2 separate regions of the Homo sapiens genome follow, and region 2 is linked to region 1. Evidence: fine-mapped expression QTL. A gene starts in region 1. The other region holds a variant in brackets. All regions are shown on one strand. Distances are from middle to middle.

What was found.
Region 2: its variant is fine-mapped to the expression of FAM111B in whole blood (INTERVAL, PIP 0.95).

What each region holds. Positions count from the first base shown.
Region 1 is chr11:59,103,496-59,115,442 of GRCh38, forward strand. FAM111B (FAM111 trypsin like peptidase B) reads left to right here and starts at 3,742. Exons shown (of 4, transcript NM_198947.4): 1 at 3,742-3,801; 2 at 5,173-5,217; 3 at 6,045-6,211. The coding sequence starts at 6,131. It overlaps LOC105369315 (a long non-coding RNA gene), which reads right to left and starts at 3,230. Exons shown (of 3, transcript XR_007062680.1): 1 at 1-3,230. RefSeq lists enhancers at 3,631-3,720, 4,861-4,910.
Region 2 is chr11:59,132,646-59,148,538 of GRCh38, forward strand. FAM111A (FAM111 trypsin like peptidase A) reads left to right here and starts at 10,211. Exons shown (of 6, transcript NM_001312909.2): 1 at 10,211-10,301; 2 at 10,438-10,659; 3 at 10,852-11,050; 4 at 13,182-13,211. It overlaps FAM111A-DT (FAM111A divergent transcript), which reads right to left and starts at 10,163. Exons shown (of 4, transcript NR_110184.1): 1 at 9,970-10,163; 2 at 7,312-7,522; 3 at 3,412-3,636; 4 at 1,327-2,943. It also overlaps the pseudogene LOC100422399. RefSeq lists enhancers at 9,979-10,428, 11,797-11,906. The variant G/GAGAA (reference allele first, on the strand shown) is at 9,269.

The DNA of each region.
Region 1 (11,947 bases):
TGGTTGCTGGAGGCTTAGAGACCCCACTCCAGCTCTCTCTCAAATGGGGGCAGCTTGTTTGCAGCAGTGAGTGAGGTGGGCCAACTATGAACCCATGGGAGGAGAGGAAAAGACCATCCCATCTAAGCTTTTACATACCCCATTGCAAGCTCCAGAATGTGGTGCCCAGGCCCATATCTATAACCCACCCCCAGAGGCCAATTCTCCTCAGCCTTTCCTGCCCTTTCTGCCGTTGTACAGCCAGTTTCCATGCTCTCTTCTATCAAACTCCTACTCATCTCTCAGCCATCTAGTCCAAATATAAATCTTTCTCTGTGATATACTCTCAAGGTAGAGGCAGTGGTGCCTTCCTCTGTATTCCGAGAACATGTCATCTGCACCTCTACATACAGACATCATCCTACTGGTAGTGTTCCAGAGCATCTTTTAGGGGTTCATGAAGGAATCACTCTTCGTAAACACTGGCCTTATTCCCTAACTTCACCAGACCTGACCTTAGTGCATGATCCATTCCCACCTCTCCCAACCACATGAGAGCCTTTTCCTCTTTATGGGTTTACAAAACACAAACTGACCCAACCACCAGTTACTGGCCAAAAGCATTCTTGTCACATTTATAATAAAATCCAGCCAACAGGATACTTTGTGCCAAGGGAATGTTCCTTTTCAGGGCAAACACTCTGTCCCCAGGGATGTTAGACAACTTCCATAGCCCCAGATAAGCATTAGCTAGAAGTGAGTTTTCTTTGGTGGCCCAACAGATTCCCTGAGCATCCCTACTCTGTCACTGATTCCAGTTGCAGTGGGATTGCATCAAAGCTCTCAGAGCACAGCTGCAAAGGGTAAAGCAAAGCTAGAGCTCTACTCTGGACCTATCACTCTAGACAGTTTCTCTGTGAGGGGCAGTTTTATACGTAAGGAAGAAATGGAAGATTACTCCCAAAATGGCCTCAGGGTACTTATCCCAATTGTGTGGTTCAGTTGCTACTCCAGTGATGAGCAAATAAACAGGAAATAGAAGCACAACTATTCCTAAGCTCAAGAAGCAGGGAAGCTCAGGAATTGGTGTGCAGCAGTGCTGCTTGGAGCGCCATTACAAAGGGACAAGCACGGTCCACTGGGAGGTAAAATTCAGGGAATCTAAGACACAGGGGGTATGGGAAACAAGGCAGGCTTTTGTATTTATCATTTGCCGTGATATCTCTCTGTGAACTTTCTTTTAATTTTCCCTGTACTTTAATTATATTTCTTAGGCCTGACGTGGTGGCTTACATCTGTAATCCCAGTACTTTGGGAGGCTGAGGCAGGCAGAGCACCTGAGGCCAGGAGTTCGACCCCAGCCTGGCCAACATGATGAAACCCCATCTCCACTAGAAAAACAAAAGTTAGCTGGGCATGGTGGCAGGCTCCTGTAATCCCAGCTGCTCAGGAGGCTGAGGTATGAGAATCGCTTGAACACAGGAGGTGGAGGTTGCAGTGAACCGACATCATGCCACTGCACTCCAGCCTGAGCAATAGAGCAAGACTCTGTGTCAAAAAAAAAAAAAATTCTCAGTTAATGGCCAACATTGTTACCATCATAAGTCCCAGCTTCCCTGTCTTCCTGTCATCATGTGTTGAATGTCCACTTCCCTCCTTATTTTTCAGTTGGAGTGGATTAGCATCTCCAATTCGACATGTCAAAAGTAGAATTTTACACACACACACACACACACACCCCACTCCTGACACACACAGCATCTCTGTCCTCAGACTTCCCCATCCTTCTAGTTGCTCAAGTCAAAAGCCCAGGAATCGTCATTGAGCCCTCTGTTTCTCTTATTTATGGAACATCCATAAGCAAATTCCAAGGGCTGGCCCTTCAAAATAAATGTGGAATCCAGCCATTTCTAACACTTCCACCATTACCATCTGAGGTCGGGCTCCAACATCTTTGCAATCCTGGGACAGACTCTTAGCTGCCTTCTCCCTTCCACATCTCTTCTTGTCCTCCCAGAGTCTTTACCCCGCACAAACGCTGCTAGGGTGATTTTTTAAAATATGTCAGGGTATATTACCCCCCTGCTTCAAATCCTCCATTTAAAATAAATTTCACATTTATAGCAAAATCCAGACTTCTTCATATGGCCCACCAGGGGCTTTATGCTAATGGAATGTGCAGATGCTCCTCCCTGAGGAGCACCTTTTACCAGGGCAAATTCTCTATCTCCAATGATGTCAGGCAATTTCGACAACACCATTCTCTACCATCTCTTGCTTTTCATAGATTTGTTTCCTCCAGATTCTACAAAAAAAGAAGATCAAGTCTCCTTGTGCAATGATTTACTCTCTGATGTATATTGGTGCCAGGCACGTGTACTGCTTTCAGATGATTCAAGAATAACAGCGATTTAAGAAAGCTGTCGTTAAGTTTTCTCTTCTCTTTGTCTGTATGACATTATTTTTACAATTATACTTCCAAAGTTTGCTCTTTCCGAACACCTCAAGACCCGTGTAATTTAAGCAGTGATTTTAGGGGTCTCTGTATATTTTATATTAATTTCAGAAACATGCTCATGATTATTCCACCAAAACTATCAACTGTTACATAAACATCTGTCCTTCTATGAGTTACAAAATAATTGTCTCCATCCCCACTTAACCATCTTCTCTCCTTCTTTGAGCAACTTCTGAAAAATAACACCCAATACTGATGGCATCTCATTCTATTCAGCTTCTCAGACAGTAAGACGTTCTTTTCTTAAACAGTAAGATGTTTTCTCAAGCCCCATGCAAAGCACTTCTTTGATATCAGTTTGGGGAGGTCGTACTCTGGAGCCTTCATCCAAAGGGTAAAGTACAGCACTCAGTAATGCGCGTCCTGGGAACGAGGCCTAAGCAGTGCTGGCCACTGCCTCCTCCAGGCTGGCATTGTCTGTGTTCGCCAGCCCCGCCGCGAAGTTAGCTCATTTGTGATCAGGCCAAGTCCCTTTAGATTTCACGCAGACGCGGGTGCAGCCTGCTCTGGGACTTGAAGTCCGCTGGAGCCTGGGCCTCTGCATTATCCGGGTGGAGCTCTCTCTGCTGCTGCCGCCAAAGGATCCCGCCTGGATGCTCATCCCGCCACCGTCGCCCACCCCGCCGCTGCAGAAAGGCAGCAACTGCCACACACCTAAGCAACTTGGCGGGCTATTCGCCCTGCAGCTGCCGCCAGCGCGCGGCTCCCGCCAGCGCGCTGGCAATCAAAAGTCGGAGAAAGCGCGAAACCTCCAGGCACCTCCCACTCCGCCCAGCTACCGCGCAGCTCCTCCCTAGCCTCCACTGGGAGACAGGGGACGCCCATGAGCGGGAAAGAGCAGGGCGGTGATTGCTTAGTTTATCCTGGGACACGGGAACTGGCCGTGGACTGAGTGGTGCCGGGGAGGGGATCACTGAGACCGGGAAGGGTCATCCAGACAAATAGGGAGGGTGGGCGGGTTGGCGCGCAGTACCCTCGGCCCGGCCTTCAGACCCACCTGCGCGCGCTGCGCGCTCATCCGGTCCTTCCCTTCAATCACTGTCTGGAGTGATGATAATTGGCTTCCACAGTGGATGAGAGATGAGTCATTTACATCCAATGAGAGAAAAACAGCCTCCAGAGACTCTTCGTCCATTGGCCAGCGAGAGTGTCAGTTCCCAGGCTCCTGCCGCGCACGGGCGAGCCCTTCTAGGCGGGAAAAGTTCAGCTGAGAGATATAAAAGAGCAGTCTTTCCAGCACCTGCAAATCCAGAGCGGCGGGCACTGACGGGCACTTGCACCGTGTGGACAGACTCTCCGGTTCTGTGAGTGGTTTTTCTTTTCCCGGGTCGGACCTGGAGTTCTTAGGGGGATGGCTGACAAGGGCAGTAGGCAGAAGGACCTCAGCCCAAAGTCAAGGGGGTTTTGGATGGGGAGCTGGGCAGCCGCCCGTTGTAATTCCCTTCCCCCTGTCTCAGCTTCAAAGGCCAAGAGTTGTACTCCTGAAGAGATACTTAGAGATCATCTGGGTGTTCCTGAATCTCGAGAGGGTCGTTTGACCCTGGTGGGTCCTTTCCCTGCCCGGTGCCGTTCGCGCCCATAGAAGGAGACCAGGTTCGGTTAAGCAGAGCAGAAACTATTCACTGATCAAGGAATGGAGTAGGAGAGCTCCTGCTCAAAGTGCCTGGAGTGTAGTGTGAGGGTGCTTCTTAAGGTCTTTTAGGGCAGGTAGTTGGAAAGCAAGGATTTCTGGAAAGAGACGGGGCTTTCCAGAAACAGCTGAGTGTGGCAGTCTCCTATTTTCTGTTGCCACCCAACACTACATGTGCCTAGCAAGCTGCGTTTCTCCCCGAGGCACAGATTGAGGTATGGTAATCAGCAAGGATTCAGGTTAGGGTAGCGCTTCTAAGTTCGTTTCCCATCTTGTAGCACGGTGGTTACTGACATCCAGTCTCTGTTTCTGTAAGCAAGCACAGCTTCAAGCACAGGTTACCTTCATAGGTTCTGGGGCTTTAGGAAAGCATTGAGGTCATCCTGCGGTGACAGAGGCAGCTGTTCAAAGAACTTGGTGCGCCTTTGAGGCGGGGGTTGTGGAGTGAGGCAGGTAAAAATGCAGATTCCATAGCCACACCCCGACATACTGAATCAGAGTCTGTGAGGGTGGGATCTGGAATCCTTTTTAAAAAGCTTAGAGGAACCAATTCACACGAACAATAAAAGTTTCATCTGAGCCAAAGTCCTTAATCTAGAAATGAGGAAATGGGGATCCCTAAAAGGGTTACAGGGAGAGGGTTGGTGGAAAGTTAGACTATGACAGTTTTAGGGTGGTTCTTTCCTGGCCTTGGAAAGTTTTCTCAGCTGCTGCTCTGATCAGTACACAGCTGAATGCTTTAGGGGAACCCTCTTCATATATCCAGAGTTCCCTCTCTGTGCAGGTCTCCCACCATGTCTTTGGCCTGTGACCTCTTGTCACCTTAGTCTCTCAGCTTTGTCTCCTTAAATCTGGAATTCCTACTGGTTTTGTCTTGCTGCCCTTCCTTGCCACACTGGCCTGGAATTCCTCAAGGTAGTCTGCTAAAGTGGATTATAGGATACATTTCAATTGTCACTGTCCTTAATTGCATAATGTCCAGTTCCTTGCAAACCATTGTTTCATATGTTTTGCTCTTTTTTGTTTTGTTTTGTTTTCATACTAGGGGGAAATCCAGTCCCTGTTACTCCATTTTGGCCAGAAATTCAAGGTAATGACTTTTAATGTTTCTGACTGCTAGTTCTATCTTCTCTCTCACTTCTGGACCTGTCTCTATTCACTGATATTTCTAGTCATTATGGGTCATATTTATCCACTTTTTAAGTGCCTGCTGATTTTTTTATTAGATATCAAGCTTTGTTAATTTCACAACTTTGGGTGCCAGAAATTTTTACATTCCTATCAATATTCTTGAGCTTTGTTCTAGTATGTTCATATTTTACATGGAAACCATTTTATACTTTCGAAGCTTGCTTTTATTTATTAGGTGGGAGCAGAACTAGGGCTAATTTTGTCCTACTGCGGAAGAAATACCTTGCAGAGTAGTCTCCCTGATACTTCATGAATTATGAAGTTTTCTAGTCGGATTTTTGGGAATTGAAATTATACACAGTCCTGTATGAGCCTCAGAAATTGTTACATCTGCTTCTTTTGGGTACTTCTTTTCCTGTTCCTTTTCAACAGTTTCGTTCCACTCATGCATTGACCAAGCTGAAATCTCAAGGGATACCCACTGCAGATCTCTCATACTGTGTGCTCCTGTGGCTGTCTTCTCCCTAGTACTCTGTCATACAAGCTCCAGTCATCTTGGCCTCCCAAAACTCCTTGCTTGTCTTCTCAAATCAGGGAAACTACTAGACTCTGCCTGTTTCTCCTTCCTAAGATATGCCTTGGAAACTCCATACAGTAAGCTAAATAGCCATAGGGCTTACCTCATATGATTTTCTTCTCAGATATCAGAGATGAGGTCCCACACCACCTGATCTCCAGTGTTTGAAAGTGGTTATTTCATAGATCTTGTTTTTTTGGTTTTTTTAGACATTTCAGGTGGCAGAATAAATTCAATCCTTGTTTCTCCATCTTATCGAGTAGTAGAAGTTAGTTACATTCTCTTTGAACTCATCATGAATTCCATGAAGACTGAAGAAAACAAGTCATTTAGCGCTATGGAAGATGACCAGAGGACTAGACCTGAAGTTTCAAAGGTATATCTACTTTTTTACAACTCCTCAGAGGAGTGATAGTCTAACTATAGTGCCATATGAGGATCTTGGAGATAAGTTCTTAAACAATGGTCGTTATAAGCCCTTCTCTTAGGTAGTTTAAAATATATTTGGGGAGCTCATACACATAAGTGCTTGTGGAAAGCAAAATGATAGAGTTAACAATGCTAAACGTATGTTAAGACAACAAGATGACTAACAAACAATATAGACACTTAAAGTCTTGGAAAGTGTAGACAGGCAAAAATAATTAGCTAATGTTTTCTGAGGAAACACTGTGTGCCTAGAATTGTGTCCCATCATATGTATTATCTCATTTAACACTTAATAGAACTATGCAGTAGGTATTATTATCATACTTATTTTATAAAAGAAGAAACTGAAGCTCAACTTGCTTATAGTTGCAGAAGTAATGGACTTCAGAGCAAGGATTTAAACCTAGTCCATCAGACTGCAGAGACTGGTTTTTGACCCACACTATTTTGCTCAAAATATGCAAAATGATAATACAAAATTGAGACATAAACAAGTGATTTTAGAGTACAGAGAGAAGAATGCTTAATTCAGACTTAGGAAACTACAGCAGCGTCATATGAGAAATGATTTATTAATGAATAATAAATCTAAAATTGTCAAACTCATAGGTGTCGAAGTGGTTGTTGGGCTGGGAATAGAGAAAAATGGAGGTATTAGTCAAGGGGTACAAAGTTTCCTTATACAAGGTGAATAAGTTCTAGGGATCTGTACAGCATGGGTGCCTATAGTTAATAACACTGTTGTATACTCAAGTTCTTGCTAAAATGATAGATCTTATGTTAAGTGTTCTAATTACAAAAATAATAAGAGGGCAGGAAGAGACTTTGGGAGGTGATAGATAGGTTGATGGCATAGATTGTGGTGATAATGTATCTCCATACTCATCAAGTTGCATACATTAATTATGTACATTAATTATGCATTTTGTATGTCTAAAACTAAGTTATTTTTTAAAAAGAATGAATAACATTTCACTAGTGTATCAAGGATGAAGGAATGGCCTAAGTAAAGTCGTGTACACAGGAAAACATATTTGGGGAACAGGATAGCTGCATTTGATGCTTTATAAGGAGAATTCAAGAATATGGTAGGCAAATACTGTTTTCTATACTGGTAAGGTAGTATGGTGCCAAGATCACAGTAGGCTTTATATCAATAAGAGCTTTCCACATTTCCAGTAAAAATATTTTCTAATTGTGAAACAATAAAATGGATTCGCTGGTTCACATGAGTGGACATTCCAGAATTCAGCTGAGCTCTTAATTCAGTGGTATACAGTTTCTTTAAGGACTTGTTTGTGTGTTCAGTCTCTGTGTTCTGCTTTTCATGTTATCCCCTGGCTGGCTTTCTGCATAGTGACAAATAGAGCTGCAGTAATATCAGATGCTTTACTCTCCCTATAATGAGTCTATCCTGGTTTCCTGAGGAAACTTCTCTTTGCCATCTAATTGTCCCAACTTAAGTAGCTCACCCATTTCAACACAAAACCTTGTGACTGAGAGGGCACATATAGATATTCTTAAGCTGTCATGAATTCATTTCCATACGTGTATGGCTCCTAAAAAGTGGGAGAGAGGTAGAATAGCTTTCTGGAAAATAGCTGCAGTATCTTTTTTTTCTTTGAATTCCATGTGTAGGTTTTTGGATTTCCTTCTGTAAATAAAGGAGATGTGTTTACAGACTTTATCTTTGTATTGCTTAGGAGGAGTTATTCAATTCACTTAAGACTTTGTTAAGTTAAATATTAATGTTAAAATGATTAGGGCTATTTCGTTCAAGACAATTGCCACTAATCACATGTGATTATGTAAATTTAAATTTAAATTCAACTTAACTAAAATCAAATAATGAAAAAGGTCAATAGTACAAATTCTCAGTTATATCACGTGTCAAGTACTTAAGAACCACATGTGGCTGTGGAATTAGACAGTGCAGATGTAGAACATTTCCGTCACTGCAGACATTCTATTGGGCAGTACTAGTCTAGGGCATCCAATTATAGAACAGAACTAGAGTATAAAACTGCCAAACTGTTCGTCTAGAAAATAGAATGAGAGGGAAAAATCAAAGTAAAGGAGGCAACAAAGCAAGGGAATATAAATTCAGAAAAAGTGGCAAAAGTAGAAGATACAAAAAAAGATGATAGAAATGAACACAAAAACCCCCACACCCAATTAATTGTCTTACAGATTATTTGAAAGGCTTTAACTTTTATTGTTTCCTTTAAATTTATGTATTTCATATACAGTAAAATTCAGTCTTTTTGGTATACAGTTGAATGGCTTATAACAAATGCCTGCAGTAATGTAACCATGACCAAAATCCAGAAGCAAAGCAGTTCCATCACCCTAAATAATTTCTTGTGTGGTTCCATCACTCTATATAATTTCCTGTTCTCCCCACTTGTGCCCTATTCATCCCAGTCCCTGGCAACCACTAATCTGTTCATTACTCTAGTGTTAACTTTTCCAGAACATCATATAAATGGAACATACACTGAATCATACCCTTTGAGTCTGGCTTCTTTCACTTAGAACATTCCATTTAAGATTCATGAGTGTTGCATGCACTGATAGGTTTTTTCTTTTTATTGATGAGTAGCATTCCACTGTGTGAATGTATCAAAATCTGTTTATCCATTCACTCCCTTAAGAACATTTGAATTGTTTCCAGTTTGGGGACTTTGTATATAAAGCTGTTGTGAACATTTGCCTGCAGGTTTTTGTATGAAGATTAGTTTTCATTTCTCTTGGGTTCACCTAGCAGTGGAATTGCTGTCATGGAAAGTGTATGACATAACTTTAATTTTATAAGAAATTATCAAAATGTTTACAAAATGGCTGTATGATTTCTCATCCTCGTTACCAATGTGTGAGAGTTCCAGTTGTTTCATATTCTTGTCAACACAAAGTTTTTCTGATTTATTCATTCTCATAGGTATGTAATGGCATCGTTTTGTGGTATTAATTTGTATTTCACTATGACTCATGATTTGAGCATCTTTTCATGTGTTTATATCATCCACATATCTTTGGTGAAGTGTCTATTAAAATATTTTTCCCATTTTATACTTGTTAGTTATTGCTGAGTTTTGAGAGGGCTTTACATATTTTGGAAACAAGTCCTTTGTCATATTGCTTTTCTCATAATATTTGTGATAATTCCTGATATTTTATCTCTGTGTGGCTTGTCTTTTCATCCTTTTATTCCTGTTTCGGGAGGGAAAAGTTTTCAACTTTGATGAAGTCCACTTTCTCTATATTTCTCTTTGTGGATCATGCTTTTGCTTTTACATCAGAGAACTGTCCTAAATCTAAGATCACAAAACATTTCTAGTTTTCTTCCAGAGTTGTAGTTTTAGGTTTAGTCTGCAATTGATTTTAAGTTTTATTTATTTTTTGTATGGTGCAATATCTGGATCAAAGTTTGTGTGTTTGTGTAAATTGTGTGTTGTGTAAAAAAATTAACACAATTGTGGATGATTAGCATCTTAACCATGTTGAGTCTTCCAATCTTGAACAAGATATATTCTCCATTTATTTTGGTCTTGTTTAATTTCTTTTGCTGTGGGGTACCTGGGAGAATAGGCAAACCTGGTGGATGAAGGCAGAGCAGGGAGTGGGTGATTGAAGGGGCAATGTGACTGGTGCATTATTCTCTCCAAGGCCACCAGACAAGGTGAGAACTAGAAAGATCAGAAGTACAAGGCACAAGTGACAGAGGTTAGTCATCCTGACATCATGCAGCTTTAAGATTGTCCAGAGAACTGTGAGTGGCTGCTATTACCTCTGGGTCTCTGGAGTATGTCTTGCCCCTTTGACGAGAAACCCTTGCTTCCTCCACCCTACATAAACTCCTCAAAAGAGAAACCTCTAGCACTGGAATCTCCCTCCCCAGACAAAAGCTCTGCACAGATGGAGTCACGTCTCTATCAGCGTCCCCCAGACTTAGAGTCCCCTGGAAACTGGATGGTCAAGATCATAAGTTATTGGGACTTATGTATGCCAGATGCAACAGTCTGCCCGGCACATTAGACACATCTTATGGGAGTCTCACCACACCTAGAGGGAAGTGTTTTCCAATTTGACAGAAAACAGAGGGGAGGCATTTGTTCAGAATGCATTTGAAACCTGGCCCCTCGGCAAACTTTACTGACCAGCTTCTACTTTAGGGACTAGGCATGTGAAAGAAGGACAGAGTCCCAGCTCTTGTGAACCTTACATTTTAAAGAGTGAAAGAGATTATCCAGGAAACAGACAAATAGAAAGTTTTCGCTAGTGGATCAAGAACATACAAAGGTAACAGAAAGTGGCAAGTGTGTGCCTTGGAGTGCTGCTCCGGCTAGGGAAGTCAAGAGGCCTCTGAAGTGGCCCTGAAGACACCCAAGGGAAGGCCAGACAGAATGGTGAATGCACAAGCCCTGAGAATGGCTAAGGCTTCCTGTCCAGGGCCTGAGTGATCACTGTAGCTGGGACCAAGGGGAGAGGAGCTGAGCAGCAGAAGGTGGGGCAGAGGGAGGGGTGGACAGGGGCCAGAACACTCTAGCCCCATGGGCCTTGGAAAAGAGGGGATGGGAAGATGCTTGAAGGGATAGAAGAGTTGAGAGTGGAGGCTATTCCAAAAACATCCAGGCTAAAGAGGAGGGGGCCTGCAGTGGCCTGAGACTGGGAGCTGAAGGGGCAGAGAGGAGGGGATGGAGTGGATGAGAGGTGTGAAGGAAAAGAGAGATGGAGAATGTAGGGCTTAAACTGTGGAGGCCAGAGAGGGAGCAGAAATGACAAGTAGGTTTTGACCCTAAAACCCAAGCACCTTAGCACTGACAGGAACTTCGCCTTTTTCTTCCTTGTCTCTAATTGGCCAGGACAGTGGTGAGTACATAGTAGATATTCATTCAATCACTTTGATCATTTATTCAATGAACATTTCTTGCAAACCTACGTGCCTGGTACGTCACAGGTACCAAGGATATACCAGTGAATACAGTGGTATCCTTGTTCTCTTGGAGCTGACACTGTAGAGGGAGAAAGGAAAAATAAATTGTGTGTGTTTGTGTGTGTGCATGCACGTGTGTGTGTGTGTTTTGATATGGGCAGAAGGGAAAAGAGAATGGCGGAGGCTGTTTTGGAAGTGATGATAATTGGCTTCTCTGATAAGGTGATATCTGAGACCTGAAAGGAGTGAGGAGGTGAGTCCTAGATGGAAATATCTAGAGGAACAACATTGAAGATAGAGAAAACAGCAAGTACAAAGGTTCAGAGATGGGAGGGTGCTTGTTGACTGACCAATAGGTCTAGTGCTTGTTGACTCACTAATCAGTACCTGTGTCCCTTCCATTAGACTTGGAATTCTCTAAGGAACATGCCTGGGTTTTCCTCATCAGACAAGAGGGGTCAGAGAGGTGGGATGGGGGCCACTTTCTCTCTTTCTTTATGCTATTCTTCTTTCCCCAATCCTGGCCAGGCTTAGAAGTAGGGGCCAGGGAAAGACAAGGGTTGAGTCTGTTACAATCTGGAGAAAAGTTACAGAAAGTCAAGGAATAGGAAGGTTCTGTGCTGTTCCAGAACCCACTACTCATATCCATGCTGTTTCTGCTTTTAACACCTGCAGGTCCCACCCTGTCATCCAGTTCCCCATCTTTGCCACTGTTGTGGCATCCATCACACTAAAACACCCAGCTTCTTG
Region 2 (15,893 bases), 31 kb after region 1:
TAAGTCTCACAAGACCTGATGGTTTTATAAAGGGCAGTTCCCCTGCACATGCTCTGTTGACTGCCATCATGTAAGACACGGCTTTCCTCCTCCTTCACCTTCCACCATGATTGTGAGGCCTCCTCTGCCATGTGGAACTGTGAGTACATTAAACCTCTTTTTCTTTATAAATTACTCAATCTCAGGTACTTCTTCATAGCAGTATGAAAATGGACTAATAAAAGTTCAAAGTTCCACCGATCTCTAGGTCAGGGGTAAAATGCCTCCAGTCTCTTTGCTAAAGCATAGCAAGAGTGACATTTGCTCCAGTTTCAAATAAGTTCCTCATCTCCATATAAGAACACCTCAGCCTGTACTTCGTTGTCCATATCACTCTCAGCATCTTGGTCAAAACCATTCAGCAAGTCTCTAGGAAGTTCCACACTTTCCCACATCTTCCTGTCTTCTGAGCCCTCCAAACTGTCCCAACTTCTTCCTGTTACCCAGTTCCGAAGTGGTTTCCACATTTTTAAGTATCTTTGTGGCAGTGCCCCAAACTCCTGGTACCAATTTCCTGTATTAATCTGTTTTTACACTGCTACAAAGAAATACCCAAAACTGGGTAATTTATAAAGGAAAGAGGTTTAATTCACTCACAGTTCCACATGGCTGGGGGGCCTCAGGAAACTTACAATCATGGAATTAGGGGAAGAAAATATGTCCTTCTTCACAGGGTGGCAGGAGAGATAAAAGTGTAGTGGGAATAGCCCCTTATAAAACCATCATATCTTATGAGAACTCACTATCATGAGAACAGCATGGGCAAAACTGTCCCCATGATCCAATCACCTCCCACCAGATTCCCCCCTTGACACTTGGGGGTTATTGGGATTAAAATTCAAGATGAGATTTGGGTGGGGACACAGAGCCAAACCATATCAGTATGGCTCTTACCTTAGGGAAACCTGACAGCTTGGAAGAGATGGCTGAGTAGCTGACCAGACATTTGAGTTCGAATCGTGAAGCTGAGGGAGGAAAAAGTCAGAGTTTAAAGCCTGTCAGCTAGTAGGAAACCTAATAAACACCACAGGATTTTGGATGGGTAAAAAGTTGTTGTACCCAAGGAATAAAAATGTTCCAGAAATATCTCAGCCTTCACAGGGACACAAGTCAATTTGAAATCACCTCAATCTAAATTAGGTTAATGTAATCTAGGACTACAAGTGACTCCCACCCAGCTGCTTGCAAAAATTAATGGTAAAGTCTCTTTGGAGGAAGGTTATATTATCTTTGGCTTCTAATTTTTTCTACAAGACAAAATTTCCTACAGAAAAATGAATGTCAATCTTTGACTTTTATAAAAAGGTAAGGAACTTTTATTGGCAAAATCAATCAAGAAAGATGGTAAAAATGTAGATTTAATAAGAAAAAATGTGACAGTATTCTATCCAATACTAAAATGGGAGTTACATATTTTAACTATAAGTATTTGCCTATAAGCCCATTCAAGGGCTTACAGTGCTCATGGAAGTGATCACCCTTCTTTCTTCATTTCTACCTGAATAGTAGAGCATTAGAGTCATTCTTTCTCTACCAGACCATGTGAATTGACATTTCCTGTTTTAGATTGTACTGAAACTAAAAGAAACAACTGTACAACCAAAGATGAGGTATAACCTTAACCAAAATTATATCTCTGGACATTTTCATAAAACCATGGGTCCTCTTATTAAATGCTGGAACCCAGTACTCCTCCTGCTACAACCACACACACTAAAGATTTCAAATCACCTGATCCTACTATTGCAAATAAATCTCCACTGAGTTATTCATGGAAGTGTTTAATAGGGTAAATCAGTTGTAAAATCTTGTTTTTAAACAGCATGCAAATAAAGCCTGCTCTTCATGGCCCCAGTTCTGAAAGCCCTGTCATGTATCACTGCTTGAGCTTACCTGCCGTATGACTTCTGCCTCCATCCCTCTGAACCAAAGATGGGCCTCACAAGATGGACCAGAAACACAGTGGTTCCAAGTGGTTATAGTAAGATTCATTTGCCACCTAAATTTTAGGTAAAAATTATCACTGGAATGTTCAGGAACTGGGCACATAGACCCTGGAATTTTGCAACAGCAAACACATCTGAATTTGGAATCTATATCTCAAATGTTACCACCTCTGTGACAGCATCCCTGAAGCCCTCTCTGTGCTACCACTGCAACCTGTTCACTTCTGTATTATGGTTATAACTCTTTTTTTAATTTTTTTTTTTACTTTTACTCATCTACTAGATTGTGACTTAATGGGTGGTGAGGACAATGTTACGTTCATCTTAGCAATCCCAATGCTTGACACTATATCTGGCATGCACAAAAATTTCCTCCAAAAAGACGGAATAAAATTTTTAAAAAGATACTTTAGGTTTATAGGTATTAGACATAAATTAGTGGAAGGTAACAGCTATCCCATAGAGCACATTAGAGAGACTGGTGTTCCAACAGCTACATGAAGTGGAACCACACAAACCAGCTAAAGGTGAGGCCCTGCAGGTTGGGCTTCTCCAGCACTTTCTGTCTTTGCTGCATGATCCTCATGGACTGCATCCAACCTTGTAAAGTCAGCCAAGAAGAGAAAAATCAGAGGCTCGTCCATTCCTTGCCGGTGTGATGACATGAGGAGCCATCCTTTGTGAACAGAACTCATTGGTTTCTGCAGTTTTTTGTTTTGTTGTTGCTTTTGGTAAAGGTTGGTTATAGCGTTGAAGCAGAACTAAAAGACGTCCACTCACAGTGAACTCTGGCTAATGATTCTGGACAGTCCAATCCTGTGGTTCAACTACTTCAATGGCCAGCCAAGGGAAAAGGGACTGAGTATATAAATTAATTCCCAGGCTTCAGGGAGCAGAAAACGCCTGCAATTCGTTTGGACATTGCAGTGTGCTTTTGCTCTTGTTGGCTATAAAAAGGCTAGGGAGAAAAACCAAAGTTAAGGAATTAAACTTCCTACTATATAACATATTGGTTTACAAGAAAAAACATATATATATAAAGTTATTTATATTTAAACCTTTATATTTTAATCCTTAACTCTTCCCCAGGAATCCCTATACATTTTCACAATAATCCAGGATACCACAAATGATGGAGAGAAGGGCATTTGAGATCTTGTTAGCCCTTGAGGCCGCCCCAAGAGGCTCACCAGCTTCAGATCTAGCACCATCAGACCAACAGATGGTTCTCAGAGGAGCACATGGAAGTGAACGTCCAGCTTCCCAACTTAACACCCCCGCTAATCACTCAGCCAGGGAAAAGCAGTTTCCCAGAAGGCTCAAGCTCTGTCCAAGAGAAGTGAGGGCTGGGCAAACCATTTCCACGTCCTGCTGCCACTGGGCATGAGGGATGTGGGTTCTCACCTCAGCTCCGCCCTCCCCTTACCCGGTTTCCGCAGGCTAATCCTCTGTCGCCATCTGCTGGCAGCGCGCGGCACTCCCCAGCCCGGTTAGGAAGAAACGGCTTTGCTGGGTGAGATTTAGGGGCTGCTCTCGCGTCTCGTCTCGGGAGCTGTCCTGAAAGGGGGCTGCCACGCTGGTCTCATTCTGTAGAGCTGCAAATTAAGGAGCACTGCGGGTGCCTCCAGAGGGTCTTGGAGGGTCATTTGGGCTGTGAGGTTGTAGGGAAAAGAAAGAGCGATCAGACTGTTACTGTGTCTATGTAGAAAGGAAGACATAAGAAACTCCATTTTGACCTGTACCCTGAACAATTGCTTTGCCCTGAGATGCTGTTAATCTGTAACTTTGCCCCAACCTTGAGCTCACAGAAACATGTGTTGTATGGAATCAAGGTTTAACGGCTCTAGGGCTGTGGAGGATGTGCCTTGTTAACAAAATGTTTACAGGCAGTATGCTTGGTAAAATTCATCGCCAGTCTCTATAGACCAGGGGCACAATGCACTGTGGAAAGCCGCAGGGACCTCTGCCCTGGAAAGCTGGGTATGGTTCAAGGTTTCTCCCCATGTGATAGTCTGAAATATGGTCTCATGGGATGGGAAAGACCTGACCATCCCCCAGCCCGACACCCTGAAGTATCTGTGCTGAGGAGGATTAGTAAAAGAGGAAAGGCTCTTGCAGTTGAGATAAGAGGAAGGCCACTGTCTCCTGCCTGCCCCGGGAACTGAATGTCTCGGTATAATACTCGATTGTACATTTGTTCAATTCTGAGATAGGAGAAAAACCGCCCTGTGGTGGGAGGCAAGACATGTTGGCAGCAATGCTGCTTTATTATTCTTTACTCCACTGAGATGTTTGGGTGGAGAGAAACATAAATCTGGACTATGTGCACATCCAGGCATAGTACCTTCCCTTGAACTTATTTGTGACACAGATTCCTTTGCTCACGTTTTCTTGTTGACCTTCTCCTCACTATGACCCTGCCCTCCTACCGCATTCATCTTGCTGAGATAGTGAAAATGGTAATCAATAAATAATGAGGGAACTCAGAGAATGGTGCAGGTGCGGGTCCTCTGTATGCTGAGGGCCGGTCCCCTGGGCCCACTTTTCTTTCTCTATACTTTGTCTCTGTGTCTTATTTCTTTTCTCAGTCCCTCCTCCCACCTGATGAGAATTACCCACAGGTGTGGAGGGGCTGCCTCCGAATTAAGGAGCACAGCGGGCGCCTTGAGAGGGTCTTGGAGGGTCATTCGGGCGGTGAGGTCTGGAGGAAAGCGGGGCGGGTTTCTTCCTCCTGAGGTACCAGGAAGATGGAGGCCACTGCAGACCGCGTGCCCCTACTAGTCCCTGCGGCCCTGGGCGCTCGAACCTCGGGCCACAGCTAGGATGGGCGCGGTGGTTATTCCCTTTTCTGGAAGGAGGAAGGCTAGCAGCCTCTGGAGTTTTGATGGGGCCGACACCCCCTTAAGAGTCCAAACGAAGGCTCCTTATGAAGGCATTACTCTCATAGAGGTTCTTTGCCTTCCAGGTCTTTGACTGAGCTGGAGTCTATGATCTGGATCCTAGGAATCCCGATCTCACAACACTTTTGACCTCAAATTGAAGTGAACATCACCTTTTCCTGCTAGTAGTTGAGTAATTTGGTAATATTTATCCAAAACCTAAAAATCATGCACAATCATCTAGACCATCAAAACAGAGTAACATGGTAGTAGTAAGAGAAGTAACAATGGCAAAGGCGCCATACCATTTCCGGAGCGTTCGTGCCAGGTACATCTCCACGACCATCCCATAGGCTACCTCATTTAGGCTCATGCCCTCTATGAGACAGTATTAGCGGGGGCATGTTCTTTACATGCAACGACAGAACCAGGACAGAGGCAAACATAAAGACGCAGTGGCTTTCAGGGTCGAGCTCAGCACAGTGTTAATTCTGTCTATATTCTACTGCCCAAAGCCCAACATTGATGGGGTGGAGAGCAACTGCAAAGGCACCTGGCAACCAGTGTGTGTACAGGGAAGGGGGAAGATCTGAGAACAATTTTCCACACTCGGCCACTGGTTCTTCCAATTCTCCAAGTACTTCAAACTAGATTAAACAGCAAACGTGTATTTAATATAGAATGTGTGTGCATTTTAATATATTGGATAGGCTATGAGACGTGACCTGGAAAAGCACTAGGCTTAGATACAATATTGCATTAAACTGCTCTGGGTCCATGAATGTGAGAATCATATTCATTCACCTCTGTTCCCCAATGTCCAGTACAATACCTGGCACAAAGTAGGAATTAACACATCTCTTAAATGAATGAAACCATGTGGAAATGATATTATTTGTGTACCTCTTCTGTCTTCCCTATTTGAGGGCAGGGGTCAACATTTTACCCTTCATAGAATGTGGCACCGGATCTTGTAAATTGCCACCCGAAATTTATACCTTGAATAGATTATTGGATTAATGAAAAAGCATTATACTAGGAAGAAGTAAGCCACTGTGCCTTTTTGCAGTTAGATCTGAGAGGCAGCCATCATTCAATAGAATAAGTTTGGCTTCTAGTTTCAGATGGGAATACAAATCCTCATAAGGATGTTTCTGCACAATTATTTGCTAAAGCTTTTTGTGAAATGGCGAAGATAATCTCACCTTCCCCACAGGGTTATTGAGAGTATTAAATGAAACAGACACATGTAAATGCCAAGCTCAGAGAGGAACTCAAAGCAGTACAGCAGCAGAGGTCATTTCCCTCTACACACTCCCTGCTGCTTCCGTGGGCAGACATAAGTGTTAGCCAGGCCAATGAAAGCAGTTAAGCAGCCAAGTTGGACTTTGCCAAGGGATCCCACACCACCACCACCCCTTTTAAAGGTTACTACAAAAGTAATCTTAAGAAAGTTTTATATATAATAACTGTGATATTTTTAACTTGATTGCACATCTTATCAAACAGGTATTGATTTTCAGTGCTTTCAATGATTAAGAATAAGGGCAACAAAAAAGAAAATCTGTGTATAATATGATGAACCTGGAATTTTTGGTTTCATACGTGTGTGTATATATATGTATATTTATGTATATATATATATATACACACACAGAGCAGTAATGGCCTTTAAAATAAATTCAAATAATGATAGAAAACAAAACATCTTCATGCATGGTGTAATCTTTTTCCTACAAGAAGGCCTTGTTTTAAAAATGTGCATAAGGTTATGCTTTTGCATATTTTATATAATTTCTTAAAGGTATGTTATCAAATTAATGTTTTCCAGCCAGGGTATCATATTTAAGGGTGATAGTAAATACTCCAAACACACCAGCTGTCACAAAATAATTATGCCTATGTCTATTATTGTTATCTGTTTCTCATAAAATTAATCATAAATGATATGAATTATTGATTAAAATTAGTGTTTATAGACTATAAACCTATGAAAAGCCACAAGAGCAGTATTTTTACATATTTTTCAAGAATTCAGATAACAGTGTAACCTTTGATTATAATAACAGAATTCATTTCTGTAGCAGAATTACAAATACAGCAATTATAAATATAAATGATACTCCGTTAAGTCCATCCTGCTTTTAACTGTGCAACTATTTACAGCCAGAGGCAGGAATAAAAAAGGGTGTATACGTGTGGAAGAAAATTCACTCCATGCTGTTTTTGACCTTGCGTGTAAAAAATAATTCATTACTATCAAAAGAGGCATTTTCCCAAATAAAAACAAACAAGGAAACAAAAACACAGGAAAAAAAAAAAAACTACTTACTGACCGTGACTTAAGTGTGGAGGAAAAAACCCTTTGCAGCTAATGTTGGCAAAAGTGTGTCCCCCGTAGATTTAGTCTAAGAATTAAGAAACTGGCCGGGCGCGGTGGTTCATACCTGTAATCCTAGCACTTTGGGAGGCCAAGGTAGGCGGGCTGCCTGAGTTCAGGAGTTTGAGACCAGCCTGGGGAACATGGCGAAATCCTGTAGTCCCAGCTACTCAAGTGGCTGAGGCATGAGAATCGCTTGAACCTGGGAGATGGAGGTTTCAGTAAGCCAAGATCATGCCACTTCACTCCAGCCTGGGTGACACAGTGAGACTCTGTCTCTAAAAAAAAAGAAAAAAGAAAAAAGAAAAAAATAGCCTGTTTAATGAAGCATTGACAAGGAACCCAGGCTATGATTATAGAATAGGAGCTTCATAGTAATTGTAAGAACTCTGGTTCTTAGAAGACAAAAGTTAAATTTAATAAATAAGTTTAATGGCCAAAATATCTTTTTAAAACTTGTTTGTAGTCTTTAGAATGTGAATTTTATTTGGTTTAGATCTTACTAAGCTATATTTTGTAACTGAAATTAATACTTCATTTTTGCCTGAAATTAGTAGAAAAAACAATAGCTAAAGTTTGCTACAGATAAATAAATGTCAATATTAGACTTTTTTTCTTTTGAAAAGGTAGGGAACTTTAATTAGTAATATAAGTTAAGAAAATGACAAAGATGTCAGATAATGAAGAAAAAATGTGACAGTAATCTTTCATCCAAAAAAAGGTTATGTTCCTATTGTCTAAAGCCAAAATATATTTCATTGCAAATATATATAAAGTTTAAGAATTGTTATTTTAGGCCCTTTCCGCAATAAGCCAACACATAACTTATCATGCCATAAATGTTTTTAAAAGAAATATGATTAAAATTATACAAAACGACATAAAAATTTCAGAAAGAATATTGATAAATATCTTGGTACATAGTAGATTTAGTTGCACAGATATTAGGTGGTACAAGTTTTATATCTTCTATAATAATAACTTTTTATTATCTCCTTGTGCACTAATATTTCAATATGTCAAAGTCATTTGAATAACCTTTCTAGTAAATCTCAACTTCGTAGATTGAAAACTTTTTTAAAAGCTTTATTTAAGTTTAGTGGTACATGTGCAGGTCTGCTATATAGATAAACTCATGTCATGGGGGTTTGATGTACAGATTATTTCACCACCAAGGTATTAAGCCTAGTACCCATTAGTTGTTTTTCCCGATCCTCTCCCTTCTTCCATCCACCACCCTCCGATAGGCCCCAGCGTCTGTTGTTCCCCTCTGCGTGTCCATGTGTTCTCATCATTTAGCTCCCACGTATAAGTGATAATATGCAGTATTTGATTTCTGTTCCTGCATTAGTTTGCCAAGAATAATGGCCTCTAGCTCCATCCATGTCCCTGTACAGGACATGATCTCATTATTTTTTATGGCTGTGTAGTATTCAATGGTATACTGAGTTTTCTTTATCCAGCCTACCACTGATAGGCATTTAGGTTGATTCTTTGCTATTGTGAACAGCGCTGCAAGGAACATACGTGTTCGTGTGTCTTTATGAAAGAATGATTTATATTCCTTTGGGTACATACCCAGTCATGGGATTGCTGGGTTGAATGGTAGTTCTGTTTTTAAGTCTTTGAGGAATTGCCACACTGTTTTCCACAATGGTTGAACTAATTTACACTCCCACCTAGTATATAATCCTTCCTTTTGGAAACAAATTTTATCAGTATATTCAATTCTGAACACCCATGTTTTAGAAAATGTTAAGCCTATTGTCCTTTAATCACTATTTGCTTACACATTAAAATGTAAAACAGGCAAAAGAGAAAGAAGGAAGAAAGGAGGGAGGGAGGGAAGGAGAAAAGTGAGAAAGAAAGAAAGATAAAAGAAAAAAGAAAGAAGAAAGAAAGAAAGAGAAGAAATAAAGAGAAAAAAGAAAGGAAGAAAGGAAGGAAGGAATGAAGAAGAAAAGAAAAAAGAGAAAGAAAGAAGGAAAGAAAAAGAAAAAAAGAAAGAGAAAGAAAGAAAGAAA[G/GAGAA]AGAAAGAAAGAAAGAGAGAGAGAGAGAGAAAGAGAGAGAAAAGAAAATTTTCTCCAGATTAGAATTATTGGCTGCTATTGTTTGGATGCTGGGTACTAGCTGTGATTACCCTTTGTGAATGTAGGAATGCACAGATTCCAAAAGTGAGTCTCATAGAAAAAGTCAGCATTCAAATATGTTTTAAGGTTACTCTATCCAAACCCCAAAGAACCCACAGAAGATGAAGCAGTAATTTTAGCTTCTCTTGGTGTATTGTACATGCATTTAAGGCCAGTTCCTTCCTTCAAATTCCCATGTGTTTTGTAGTTACCAACACACCTTTCAACCCTATCTGTTTATATACATCATATAGTCCTCTGTCAATTGCATAAAAGTTGTCCCCTTTGTGACTGTAATCGCCTTTTCCAATACACATCTACTCAGAATGCAGGTCCTTAAACAGCAGGCTGCCTTGAAAACCCTCTCCAATCTTCTTCGATCATCAGCTTTGAGATGCATATTCCTAGAGCCCATATCATCTTCTTCATCACTATCATAAACGTCTCCACATATTGATGAACGTTTGGAGAATCGATTTATGACAAGGGAGTTTACTCTTCCTGCATCCGCGGCTTCTTCGTGATTTTGTCCTAGTCACCGGGCCTATCCCACCTGCTGGGGATGCCGCCCCCTCGGAAGTGCCTGAAATCTCCCCACTTACCCAACTAGCCTCAGCGCCTCCTGTGTGCTGCAGCAGATGGCGCGCTGCAGACCCCAGCCTGGTGCCTCCGCGACTCCTCCCCAACCATGATTTACAGGCGGGGACAGCCACATTCCTGCGCCCCAACTTCCACCTCCGCTTCCTGCGCGCGCGAGACTCAAGCTGCCACAGTGGCTCTGCCGCCAGCGTCCCAGCTCCTCCCACACCCGAGTTTTTATTTCCTGCTCCCTCTCCAGCCCGGCCCAGGCCAGCCTACCGGCGACTAGGATGCTTTCGCTTTCGCTCTCGCTTTCCAATACTCGGGACTGGGGAAACCGGGAGAATAGAAGCAGGCAAGGACCGCCGTGGGCACGGGGTCAGTGAGACAGGGTCCTGCTCGCGGCGTCAAGGAGGAGCGCTGTGGGTGGGTAGGGTAGGCGCGCCCCCTCGGCCTTGCCTTTCCAACCACTCTTTTTTGCACGCCAACAGGTGTCCCCAGCGCAGCCAATCGGCTTCCGAAGTAGGTGAGTTGCTGCCTGAAGAGAAAAGACAAACTCCAGTATCTTTCATTCCATTGGCCAGACGCGCCATTCCCCAAGTGAGTTCTGTTCTCCAACCAAAGTGCTGGATTCCAAGGGACTGGAAGGGAAAGTCCCTAAAAATCACGAGTTCAGGCGTCTGAGACTTGGTGGGAACGGACCTTCCTCTTAGGTGAGTTACTCTTTGGTTCTGGGGCTGACCTGGAGTTTTGCCAGGATTCATTGGCCGCAGCAGGATGCTGGTGGGGACAGGGTAAATAAAATCTGCACTCCTGCGGGCTTTTATTGTTGAAAGGGGCACTGACGCTCTCCCTGGAAACTTAAAAAGAACAGCCAAGTGAACGGATGTGTCTTTCTTTTGCAGTGCCCAAGCCTGTTCTAATTTTTAAAAACTGATGTCTATTAAGACCCAATGTTAACTTTATGAAAATGGTTCCTAAGGAGATTCACATCTCTGTGTCCGAATTCTGTGTGCAGCAAACATCATCTCAAGTGCGTTTTCCCAACTACGCTTCTTTCCAGGATAAAATACTCTAAGTGACAAATGTTGAGTACATTATCAGGTATGTTCACTATTGTGAGAACTGAAGCCATCTACACTCACATAGCTTGCCAACTACATTAACCTGACTTCTTATTCCATTATTTTCATCAACATACATTTACTATTTCAAGAAACTTTTGCCAGGGACCGGAAAGTTGCAAATATCTTTATTGCTTAATCCAGTATCTTCTTCAAAGATCCAACCACTCTTCAATGGAAAACATCAAAGAACAGTTTACATTCTAAGACTTTGAACCTTTACCTCAAAATCCTAGCCTTGTTTTATCTACCAATCCTAAACTTTTACCCGTAGCTGACTCAATTCTAACCAATTCCCCTCATTAAATATTAGACTTACAATGGGACTTCAAAATCTCAATACATATAGCCCAAACTTGCTCTTCCCTCTCTGAGACACCACTTAAATTCTGTCAAGTTATTGTTCTCCATTACCTAAGTGAGCAAGAAACTTAGCTTTGTCTTATCAACAGGTTGCTTTGATATTACTGGGAGCCAACATTTGACATTCTTGGAGGCTCCAGCAAGACCTAATCAACCTCCCAACCCTCAACTCAGAATCAGTGTGTGCCCTGAAGTCCCTTCAACCTTCTTGAGGCTCTCCCTGATCTCAAAGGTGGAGAAAGTAGATCTTGCATCAGGTTGAACTCCAGTTTCTTTTTGCTCAGTTTTTCAAGCGCTGAGTTTATTTTGTCCCTAGGCATAAAGAAATCTTTCTAGGAACCCCTTTGGTTATGGGACCAGATTTTTAAAAGCTTTTTAGGCTTGGTGAAAAATCTGCCTTATCACTAGCAACACTACGACTTGTCTCTGTTCTTGTTTTTTGTTGTACTCGTGTAAAAGAAAAGTTCAAGGGAAGAGAACAGGCTCAAGTCTACTTCTCACGCTGGCTCTGGGGATTAGGAAATTCAGAAAGTTTTGTTTCAGACTGGCAGTGCTGTCTGATATAAACACAGCGTCAAGTACTGCACGCTGTAGCTACCTGAGGTTTAGGCCGGAAGAGGCACGGCTGATTTAAAAGTGAAAGAAAGTAACCAATTGGTTCGCAGACAACCTTTTCCCAAAAGGCGGGCGATTCAAACCCCTAGCCCCACCTGCTCCGTTTCCCGCCCAGCTGGAGCTCTGGAGCCTTTGCTTCCTCAAATACGAGCGGGAACTGCGTTGAGCGCTGGATTCCAGGCCGAGTGCTGGCGAGGCGCGCAGTGAGTGAGCACACAGGGCGCTGGGGTGCTCCGCGGGGCGCGGTCACGGGCGCGGCCGCGGCGGGCTCGAGTCCCGGCTGGGAGGAGAAGGAGCTGGGTGTCAGGAAGCCGGGGACTGACAGCGCCACCCATCTGGGGAGCCGGGAGGACACAGGTTTTATTTTGGTAGTGCTGCAAGTCCCCTTGTGTGCTGGGGGGAGCGGGGCGGCGTGGTAGGATTGGAAGAGGCTTAGAGTTGGCCTCGACCCCTGCCCTTGCCCCTGGAAAGGCAGAAAGTGGGGGTTGGGGTGCGGAGAAGCAGGAAGAGAGGGAGAGTGAAGGAGGGGAGGAAAGGGAGAGAGGAAGAGGGAGAGTGAAGGAGGGGAGGAAAGGGAGAGAGGCAGAGAGGGGGAAGGAGAGAGGGAAGGAAGGAGAGATTGAGAGACAGAGAAATTCCTAAGGGGAGCTGTCAGGTGGGCTGGACATGGGCCCCAGGCTGCACTGCTTTATCCCTTTGCTGTAGGAAGTCAAGCAAGTTCTTTAGGTAAGTAGAACCTTGATGTCAAGTATAAAACAGGGGTTGGTATAGGATAGCTAAGAGCACTTTATATTTTGATATAATCTGATTTATCCTGGATACTGAAAACAATGTAGGGAGACGGAGGATATTGGAGTGTTTTCTTAACCTCTTGCCCCTTTCCACTGTGATTGCTCAAGTACATGCAAAATTAATGTTTCTTTCTGCCCATTTTATTTTCCTTTTTTTGTCTGTGTCTATTAATCATTCCTAAAGCACCCGGATCCTCTCTCAAACTTCGTAAGATGAGACATCATGAACAGACACAGTGAATCCCTAGATTTTCTTAATAGTTGGGCAACAAGTTCTTGCATTTAGGGATGTTGCAACATAGCCCAGTTCCGCAATTGTACATTTTCTATTTTTTTTCCTAGGTTCTCTGCTGTTTAAAAAGTATCCCTGTGGTGAGTGTATTGATATTGATAACATTTACATGACCTTTTTATTGATTATTTACTGGGGGACCTATTACATACAGGCAGTGTTTTAAAGGCTTTGCATATGCTCTCTCTCTCTCTCTATATATATATATATTTACACACACTGTATATATAGATAGATTGCATATATAATATATATAATATGTGTGTGTATGTGTGTATATATATATTGTGTGTGTGTGTGTGACAGAGAGAGAGAGAGAGAGATGAAGTCTCGCTCTGTTGCTCAGGCCTCAGGCTGGAGGGCAGTGGTGTGATCTCGGATCACTGCAACCTCTGCCTCCCAGGTACAAGCCACTCTCCTGCCTCAGTCTCCCAAGTAGCTGGGATTACAGGCACCCACCACCATGCCCAGCTAATTTTTAATTCTTAGTAGAGACAGGTTTTCACCAGGTTGGCCAAGCTGGCCTCGAACTCCTGACTTCAAGTGATCCATCAGCGTTGGCCTCCCAAAGTGCTGAGATTACAGGCATGAGCTACCGCACCCAGACCACAATATATTTCTTAATCTTTATAACAAGGTTGATTCCCACCTTAAGGTGAGGAAAATGAAGGAAGAATAGTTAATTAATATGCCCAAGGTCATGCAGCTAGTAAGTGGCTACCTGATATTTGAACTCAGACAGTTTTATAAGTTCTAACATTATTTTAGCACTTCCATATTCATTATCTCATTTAGAATCATTGCTTCTTTTTACAAACAAGAAATTGAGGCTCAGAAAGGCTAAATGAATTTCCCTAGTCAATGACTGACAGTAAACTAGAAAGCCAGGACTCTTGTTCCATAGTGGAATGGTTACGAGAGTAAACATAGCCTTTAGATAACTTCCATTTGACAAGAAATACAGGGGCTAGAACATAAGTTAAACAATGACATGAGGAAACAACCCAGGAGGTGAACATTCTATAGAGACAATTTCTCTGTTCTCTTCAACAAATCAGTGCTTTTTCTAGAATAAAAGAGCCTTATAAGACATATAAAGGAAACTGTGTACCTCAGTTGGATCTTGGTATGAATAAATCAGTATTGTGATTATAAAAGAAAAATTATGTAATTTTTAGAGATGGGAAGTGACCATTAGCGTTTAAATGTCATGATGTTTCTAGCTGTAACATAAATCATCTAGTAAAATAAAAGGATGGTGTAAGGGTAGCCAAACCCGGGTTTGGCAACTCACACCTCAAAGCCAAACATGAGAGATGAGAGTTGGTGGGAGGAAAAGCAGGTTCATTCAGAGAGCCAGCAAACTGAGAAGATGGCAGACTAGCAACCCAAAGTAGCCTCTTAAGTGAGTACAAGTTTCAGGCTCTTTATGTTAAGGGCATGGGGAAGAGAAGGGATTTACGATCAAGAGGTGACCATTGACTGGAGACATCTGAGCACCATCAAGGATCCAAGAAGGTTGGGAATGTCTTTGTCCTGATGTTCCAGTGAGCCCAAGCATTGATTTGCTGAAGAGAACAGATAAGTTGTCTCTATAGAATGTTAATTTCCTGGGCTGCTTCTACATGTTGTTGTTTAGCTTATGTTCTAGCCCCTGTATTTCTTGTCAAATGGAAGTTATCTAAAGATTATATTTATATTTGTTCTCCAGGTCACAACCCTCCTGTAAATTTTTAACAATCCATAGTTGTTTACATACTTTCCCTTTAATCCCAGAGCTAGTTTTTAAAACTACATTTTTTTTGCATATTATCTCACTGCTCTAAAATTAACCTCCCCTCCATGCATGAATGGATAAAGACCCCGTGAACAAAAATAGAGTTCTTTATGTTAGTTCTTTTACTGTTTCACTGTTACATAAATTGGCAAAAAAATGAACAATTAACTATGTGATAGGTATGTAGAAGTTCATTATACCATTCTCTCATTTTTTCTCTAATAAATTGTTCATAATAAAAAGTCCTGAAAGTATATTCTCTGAGTTTTATGACCTTGAGTAAAAGTTTAATCTCCCTGGGTGTTCAAGCTCTTTTGCCAGTAAAATGAGACAAATAGTACCTATCTCATAGGGTTGTAAGAATTACATGAGATAGTTGATGAAAAGCACTTAGAACAGGGCATAGTACACCATATGCCTACTCCATTCGTTTATTGAATGTATCTTTAGAAATGTATCTTTTTCAAGGGCCTGACATGTCTCAGACATTGTTTTGAAATATTGAGGTACTAAGGACAGACATGGCTGCTGCCCTCAATGGTATTTATCTTTCTAGCGGTATTTATTACTATTGAAGATGTCACTATTTTATTTAAAGTTTGTTCATCCTCTTCTAGGGAGACATCAGAGGAGAGATAGAAGGAAAAATACCTCTTTAAACAAAAAATCTAAAGCAGCAACTAAGGTTTCTGACTATCATCCCTAGCAAACTTTCCAGATTTCTTTTTAAAATCTCATTCCAAGTTTCTTTCCTCAGCTCTATCCTCACCACTTCCCTGTAATTTTATCTCCCCTTGCCATCTTCATCTTAAATGAATAACAGATTTTAACATCAATGTAACTAGAACAGCTTTTTGAAATTTCCAACTGAAAATTATTCTATTATTTATACTTGCATTTGAATTCCATCTCTGCCACATAGCTCTGGCCTTGGGCAGTTCGTCTACCTTCTCTAAGCTATACTTTCCCCATCAGCAAAGTGTAG